2 linked regions of the Homo sapiens genome follow. The protein of the gene in region 1 interacts with the protein of each later gene in a pairwise test. Each region holds a gene or a part of one and is shown in the gene's direction. Other genes may lie near its edges.

Region 1 (3,817 bases):
ACCATCTGTAGAATCAAGTATTTTGCACTCTGGGCAGCAAAAGACTAACTGGCCACCTGCTGGTTTGTCATTATTTGTCTTCTCACCTACTGTACCTAGCCAACTTTTCAGGTTCTCCCCGGAGACACTCTTTAGGTGTCATTTGTGAACTGGAGAAGTCCTCATTAGAACTATTTTTTTGTCCAGTGGCTGTAGCCTTGAAGGCTGGTGTGGCTTGGTCAGTCAGTTCTCTGGATCCTGTGAAGGGACCTGTCCAGCACAGGGAAACAGAGGGAGAAGACCCATCTCAGACAGCACCTGCTCTCCCCTTAACCCAGACTTAAACTCACAGGAACCTAGGAAGACCTTGCCAAGCAAGTACACAGGAAGGGCCTGAGGGGAAGGGCTACTAGTATGGGAGTTAGGAGAAGGAAGTCCTGTGAGTTTAAAGAAATCATGATGGGCTTTCTGGAGGAGGCTGGACCACACAGGACTTTGAGGACAGACACCAAGTTGGGTGTACATGGAACCCAGATCCTTGGTTCTTCTACCTAGCCCAGTGTTTTTGTCCCACGGTAGATGGGTCTGCCCCTCTCTCCCTGAATGCCCTGCCTGCTCTGAGGGGTGAATGCTCACAGAAGCCCAGAGGGCAGGTGGGAAGGCTAGCTTCAGGACTGAGAGCAGCCCCCTGTCTTCACTCCCTAACAACTCTCTGTCTTACTGCTTTCTCCCCACAGGACCCAGCCGCCGCCTCCATCTCTGACGGAGACTGTGACGCCCGGGAGGGTGAGTCAGTAGCCATGAATTACAAACCATCCCCGCTCCAAGTGAAGCTGGGTGAGTGTGTCTGGGGGGTGAGGGAGATGTGGGGAGTAGGCAAGATACTCTGGGCTGGGTCTACAATGAGGTGCCACAAATAAACCAGCTCAGCCTAGATGATTCCAAGACTCAAGCCTTCAAGTCATTGGCACTGCGAGGCACCTTGTCTCCTGCAGGCAAAGAGGGCAGTTACAGTTCTCTGCAGGAGCCTGAAACTCTAAGAGGCATCTCTGAAGCCAAGAACGTTCCAGGTATTCTGGGGCATAGCTGCAGGGGGAAAAGCATGGAACCCCAGAGAGAGGACTTGGAAGTCCCATCAAACACTGGATCAGGCTGAGAGGAAGCTGCCTTAGAAGTGGGATGTTACTTGTTATGTCTAAGGGATAGAAAGGAAAGAGAGTTCCAACCCTAGAAGCCGAGCCCCTCTCCCGATTACAATCTCAGCCCATCTAGAGATCTCTGGGCCCAGTTGGCACCTATCTGGGGGAGTTTTCCCTTCGTTTCTTAGAAAACCCAAATATCTCCCTTCCTTTCTGGGTCACATTTCCCTTGTGGCTTTGTCTCATGTCCATTCCAAAGTCAGTTTACTGTGCAGCCTGATCCTGTGAAGTCCCCTCGCTTCTGGCCACTGTCCACAGCTCCTACCACTATTGCCCTCCCTTCACCTCATGGGCTGTCCCTCTCCCTTCAGGGACCAAAGTTTCACTGTCTCATGGCTGCTGTATATAACACACTTTTATGAAAACTTTGGTTTCTTGAAGAGAAATTACAAAACAGGACATACAGGAAAGAATTTACAATTAAATATAGGTCATTACTATCCTTCCAAGTTCCTCTGCCATCAAGGCCACCCTCCTGTCCATCCTCCTCCTCAGGCTCCAGCTGCCCAACAATTACTGATGCCTCCTCAGTCCTAAGGGCCCTTTGCCTACAACTTTCTCCTTCCTTTCCACAGAGGCCTGTATTTTATTATTCAACTACTATTTTTTTTTCTTACCTTGCTTGCTTCTGTCCTTCCAGACCACATCCAGGGAGCCCCTCGAGCTGTTTTTCTAAACAAGAATAGTCCTCTCCTTGGAATTTGTTTCTATTCCTAGGACATCAGATTAAAACTGCAGCCAATTTTATTTATCAGGGGTGTTGGTTGTTGTTGTTGTTGTTGTTGTTGTTGTTTTGAGACAGAGTCTCTCTCTGTTGTCCAGGCTGGAGTGCAGTGGCATGATCTTGGCTCACTGCAACCTCCGCTTCCCTGGTTCAAGCGATTCTCCTGCCTCAGCCTCTCAAGTAGCTGGGATTATAGGCGCGCATCACCACGCCCAGCTAATTTTTGTATTTTTAGTAAAGATAGGCTTTCGCCATGTTGGCCAGGCTGGTCTGGAACTCCTGGTCTCAAGTGATCCGCCCACCTCGGCCTCCCAGAGTGCTGGGATTACAGGCATGAGCCACCATACCCAGCCTATTATTGTTTAATATCACAATACAAATATTTTAACAAGCATAACTTCTTTACTCTCCCCCATCACATTCTCCTCCTAAGAGGTAACCATTCCAAGCCTTTTCAGTTTTTGTAGTTTTACTTTGTATTTTAACATAAGTGGTATCATATTGTGCACATTTTCTGAAACTTGGCCTTCCCTCTTCCACCACCTAAATCTTGGAGCTCCTTCCAATGTCATCATATTGTGACTTCATTCTTTTAAATGGTTGTATAGTAGTCTTTAGTTTGGTTTTGCCAGTTTATTGTTTGCTTTTTTCCCACTATTTCAAACAATTTCAGCATGCTTTTAAAATAACATCTTTTTTTCTCCCCATTACATTACCATCAAAGCTCCTCATGAAAATTCACAGCATTGTCCCAGTTGCACCTAGTACCACCAGGAACTTTAAGGCAAATTGCACCCCCTAGAGGCCTGGAGTGGTAATGGCAGCTGCCACCTGCTGGAAAGAAGCTGGGAAAAAGCTGGAATCAGCTGAGCACTGGCAAAGAAAGAGGGTCAAAGAGTAGAAGACAGAGATTCAGAGACATGAGGTCAGGGGAAATTTCCAAGTGAGTCACAGTAGCTGTAAAGGTCCTTCCCATCCTTACCCTCTGGAGCATTTGGCTATTTTATGAGTCATTTTCCCTAGTGTCCCTCTCCACCTAACAGTTCCTTTTCCTAGATCTGGCCTTTACTTGAGATGAGTAGGGAAGAGTAGATGGGACTCCTCCAAGACCCAGGAAGCTACTTCTGGTAACAGTTGTCACATACCAGGCAGTGGACTGGGTCACCTGATGGCCAGCTCCATGAAGCTGGTAGGCTTTGGAACCTTGGAGAACTCAGACCTTGGCAAAGGAGTCAGGAGCACCACTCAGGCAGCGTAGCCAAATGGGCTCCCCCAGCCTTCTGCCCCTTACTTTGTAGCCCCATCCTGCACCTCCCACACCATAACCTTCAGTGGCTTCTTCTTCCTTCTGCGTTAATCCCAAACTCCTCTGTCTGGCATTCAAGTCCTTCATGTTCTGAGTTTGTAACCAGAGAGGGTCTTCGGCCCCTTAGCACAGGACCAGACTTATAATTAGTGACATGGATATTTGTTGAATAAGTGGCTGAATAAATGAATTTTACTTCTCTAACCTGACCTCTCTCTTCACCCCTCTATCCAGAGCCACACTTATGCTCACTTTTAAATGCATTTTTGCACACACTATCCCTCCTTCCTAGAATGTCCACCTCTCTCCAGGTCATGGTGTCACCTAAAGGAAGCCCTCTCTGACTGCGCCATCCTTCTGTGATTGTCTCTCCCCCGCCAGCCTTTCCCTGGCATCAAGTACACACTAACTACCCTAACATGGGAGTTGTGGTTCCTGAAAAACAGGGGGCAGCCTCCTCTTTTTGCCCCCCACTGTCTGCCTCAGGTTGTGCAGGGCCAGGTACTATCTCCACCAAGCAGCAGGGGCCTGGAGTTGGGATCCCTGCCTCAGTCCTTCTAGGAGCAAGTGGTTTCACAGTGGAGGCCCAGCCCAGGCTGCCCTGAGTAG
Region 2 (3,817 bases), on another chromosome or scaffold:
TCATTTCTGCTTCCATCTCATTGGTCTTTCCTAATTGTCAAGGGAGACTGGAGTTATAACTGGGCAAGTTGCTATTTGCAACAATTAGAAGTTCTGGGCCAGGCATGGTGGCTCATGCCTATAATACCAGCACTTTGGGAGGCTGAGTTGGGTGGATCACTTGAGGTCAGGAGTTCAAGACCAGCCTGACCAGCAAGATGAAGCTTCGTCTTTACTAAAAATACAAAAATTATCCAGGCATGGTGGCAGGTGCCTGTAATCTCAGCTACTCAGGAGGCTGAGGCAGGACAATGGCTTGAACCCAAGAGGCGGAGGTTGCAGTGAGCTGAGACCACGCCACTGCATTCCGGCCTGAGCAACAGAGCAAGACTCTGTCTCAAAAAAAAAAAAAAAAGTTATGTTATTTTAAAAGAAGGGGAGGCTGGGCGTGGTGGCTCACACCTGTAATGCCAGCACTTTGAGAGGCCAAGGCAGGCAGATCACGAGGTCAGGAGATCGAGACTATCCTGGCCAACATGGCGAAATCCCATCTCTACTAAAAATTTAAAAATTAGCTAGGTGTGGTGGTACGTGCCTGTAATCCCAGCTACTTGGGAGGCCGAGGCACGAGAATCACTTGAACTCAGGAGGTGGAGGTTGCATTGAGCTGAGATCGTGCCACTGCACTCCAGCCTGGCAACAGAGCGAGACTCTGTCTCAAAAAAAAAAAAAAAGAAAAGAAAAGAAAAAGAAAAAAAGAAGGGGAGAGGCATCCCTGTAATCTTAGCACTTGGGAGGTCAAAGCAGGAGGATCAGTTGAGCCCAGAAATTCAAGACCAGCCTGGACAACATAGTGGGAGCTCATCTCTGGAAAAAATTTAAGAAACTAGCCCGATGTGGTGTCATGTGCCTGTGCTCCCAGCTGTTTGGGAGGCTGAGGCAGGAGGATTGCTTGGTCCCAGGAGGTCGAGGCTGCAGTGAGCCATGGTCATACCACTGCCCTCCAGCCTGGGTGACACAGTGAGACACTGTCTCAAAAGAAAAAAGGAGAGGGAGAATGGATATTGGGCATGCAAACAACAGGCGCTGCCACAACCTGCTTTGAAGAATATAATATTTATATTAGGAAAATAACATTTTAGTGGCATTAAATCCTTATATAGGACATAAATTTAAAAGATCCCCAAACTGCATTTACCATGTGTCTGATTAATAAAAGCAGTAAATCTCTAGGACAGAGTGTTCTGCTTTGGATGTCTCAGCAGGAGTCATTGGAAACAACTAGTTGGGTTTTATATATTTTTAAAAAGCTGAAAAATGACTTCTTCAAAACAACCGGGAAAAAAAGACTCTTTGGGGCCTGGTGTGGTGGCTCACGCCTGTAATCCCAGCACTTCGGGAGGCTGAGGCGGGCGGATCACCTGAGGTCAGGAGTTTGAGGCCAGCCTGGCCAACATGGGGGAACGCTGTCTCTACTAAAAATACAAAAATTAGCTGGGCGTGGTGGTGTGCACCTGTAATCCCAGCTACTCAGGAGGCTGAGGCAGGAGAATGGCTTGAACTCGGGAGGCGGAGGTTGCAGTGAGTCGAGATGGCGCCAGTGCACTCCAGCCTGGGCTACAGAGTGAAACTCCATGTAAAAAAAAAAAAAAAAAAAAACACTTCAAATTAAATCCTTTTCTCTTTTGGAGATAGGGAGAATCAAGACAACAACAAAAACAATTGAACAGATATTTATTGAACTAGCAGGAGTAACATATGTTAGAGGATACAAGCTAGGAATAAACATATTTAAAGAAAATGTTCAAGTTGTTTAGGATTTAGGCCGGGCATGGTAGCTCTCGCCTGTAATCCCAGCATTTTGGGAGGCTGAGGTGGATGGATCACTTGAAGTCGGGAGTTCGAGAGCAGCCTGGCCAACATGGCAAAACCCTGTCTCTCCAAAAAATGCAAAAAAAAATTGGTGGACACCATGCCTGTAATCTCAGCTACTTGGGAGGCTGAGGCGCAAGAATTGCTTGAACCCAGGAGGCGGAGGTTACAGTGGGCCAAGATTGCGCCACTATACTCCAGCCTGGGTGACAGAATGAGACTCTGTCTAAAAAAAAAAAAAAGTTGTTTAGGATTTAATGAATCAAGATAGACTAATACAATATATGAAATAGTTATTAATTCCAAATATGTGAGACCTACCCTCGAGAGAAGTATGTGTTAGATGTACATCTGTCTATATCCCACCCATAGAAATAAAAAGGGAATGGGGCTGGACACAGTAGCTCATGCCTGTATTCCCAGCACTTTGGGAGGCCAAGGAGGGAGGATTGCTTGAGCTTGGGAGTTGTTCAGGACCAGCCTGAGTAACATAGTGAGACCCCATCTCTATAAAAAATCAAAAATTTAGTCTGGTGTGGTAGAGCGAGCCTACAGTCCCAGCTGCTACTTGGGAGGCTGAGCTGGGAAGATCGCGTTAGTCCGGGAGGCAGAGATTGCGAGCCGAGATCTTACCACTGCACTCCAGCCTGGGTAACACTGAGACCTTGTCTCAAGTTAAAACACTTAGAGGCAGAAGCAAACAATAATCTACAACATATGCAACTGTAGACCACTATATACATAAATATATAAGATGGGAATGTTTCTGCTCTGTGAAACCAGATAATTTTTTAAGTGTTCTATAATCTTTTTTTTTTTTTTTTGAGATGGAGTCTCGCTCTGTCACCCAGGCTGGAGTGCAGTGGCGCCATCTCAGCTCACTGCAACCTCCGCCTCCTGAGTTCAAACGATTCTCCTGTCTCAGCCTCCTGAGTAGCTGGGACTATAGGTGCGTGCCACCATGCCCAGCTAATTTTTGTATTTTCAGTAGAGACAGTTTCACCATGTTGGCCAGGCTGGTCTCAAACTCTTGACCTTGTGATCCACTCACCTCAGCCTCCCAAAGTGCTGGACTTACAGGCATGAGCCACTGCGCCTGGCGTCTGTAATCCTATTTAATATCTACTATTCTCATGGTACCAGTTATATATTTAGTGAATGCCTCATATTTACAATGCACTTTATAAAGGAAATTCATTCACAATTTGCCACTTAGGTGAGAAAGTCTGGATTTTGGCTTCTTAATAGTTATGAATTTCAAATCTGGGGAAAACCCAGCCTTGTGTTTTTTCCCCCTTTTCCTTTCATCAGCACTTATCAGCAACCAAACACTAAGTGTCTGTTGACTTTTCTCCAGCTGATAAAAAACAAAAAACTATAGAGACTCCCTGTGAAAAGAGGGCCAGTTGTGCTGGCCTGGGGCCAGGCTGCACGCTCTGTGACCTTGCCTCTTCAGTCTGAGTTGTCCATAGGGCAACAGTTCCAAATAGCCCATGTGGCTATGGCAGTAAGCATAGAGAGTGCTCATGAACCAGATAATGTAACAAGTTATGTTAGCCTGGCCTTTGAGCTCAGTGAGCCATCCTTTGAGCCTTTTATGATACTGCACTTTCAGGCATCCTTTTGGGAAGATCCAATGGATCAGGGACCATTCTCTATCTTATAGCAGTGGAAATGTTTTTGGCACTGTGGTATTAAATAACTACTCATTTGAACGTATTGTGCAATGACTTAGCCTTTCCCATCATTATTAGTTCCCATTGAAGCTGTTGTGCTCAGTTTGAGTTTCCAGTAGGGACTATGAAAGAAAATGGAAATCTCACAAATTGTACTTTTAAAAATATTTTATTCAGTGCTAATACTGTTATCTCATATTTTGGCTTTTGTGTCTCCCACTGTATACCCCCATTTCCCCTCTGCTTTCAGGTGAAGGTCTCCCACAGGTGTATTACTTTGGACCATGTGG

Evidence for each region.
Region 2: the proteins of FAM219A (region 1) and CSNK1G1 interact in a two-hybrid assay, tested with the Homo sapiens proteins (one large-scale study listed by BioGRID and IntAct).

What each region holds. Positions count from the first base shown.
Region 1 is NC_000009.12:34,402,864-34,406,680, reverse strand, and holds part of FAM219A (protein FAM219A), read left to right. Parts: intron 1-716; coding exon 717-816; intron 817-3,817.
Region 2 is NC_000015.10:64,216,674-64,220,490, reverse strand, and holds part of CSNK1G1 (casein kinase I isoform gamma-1), read left to right. Parts: intron 1-3,777; coding exon 3,778-3,817.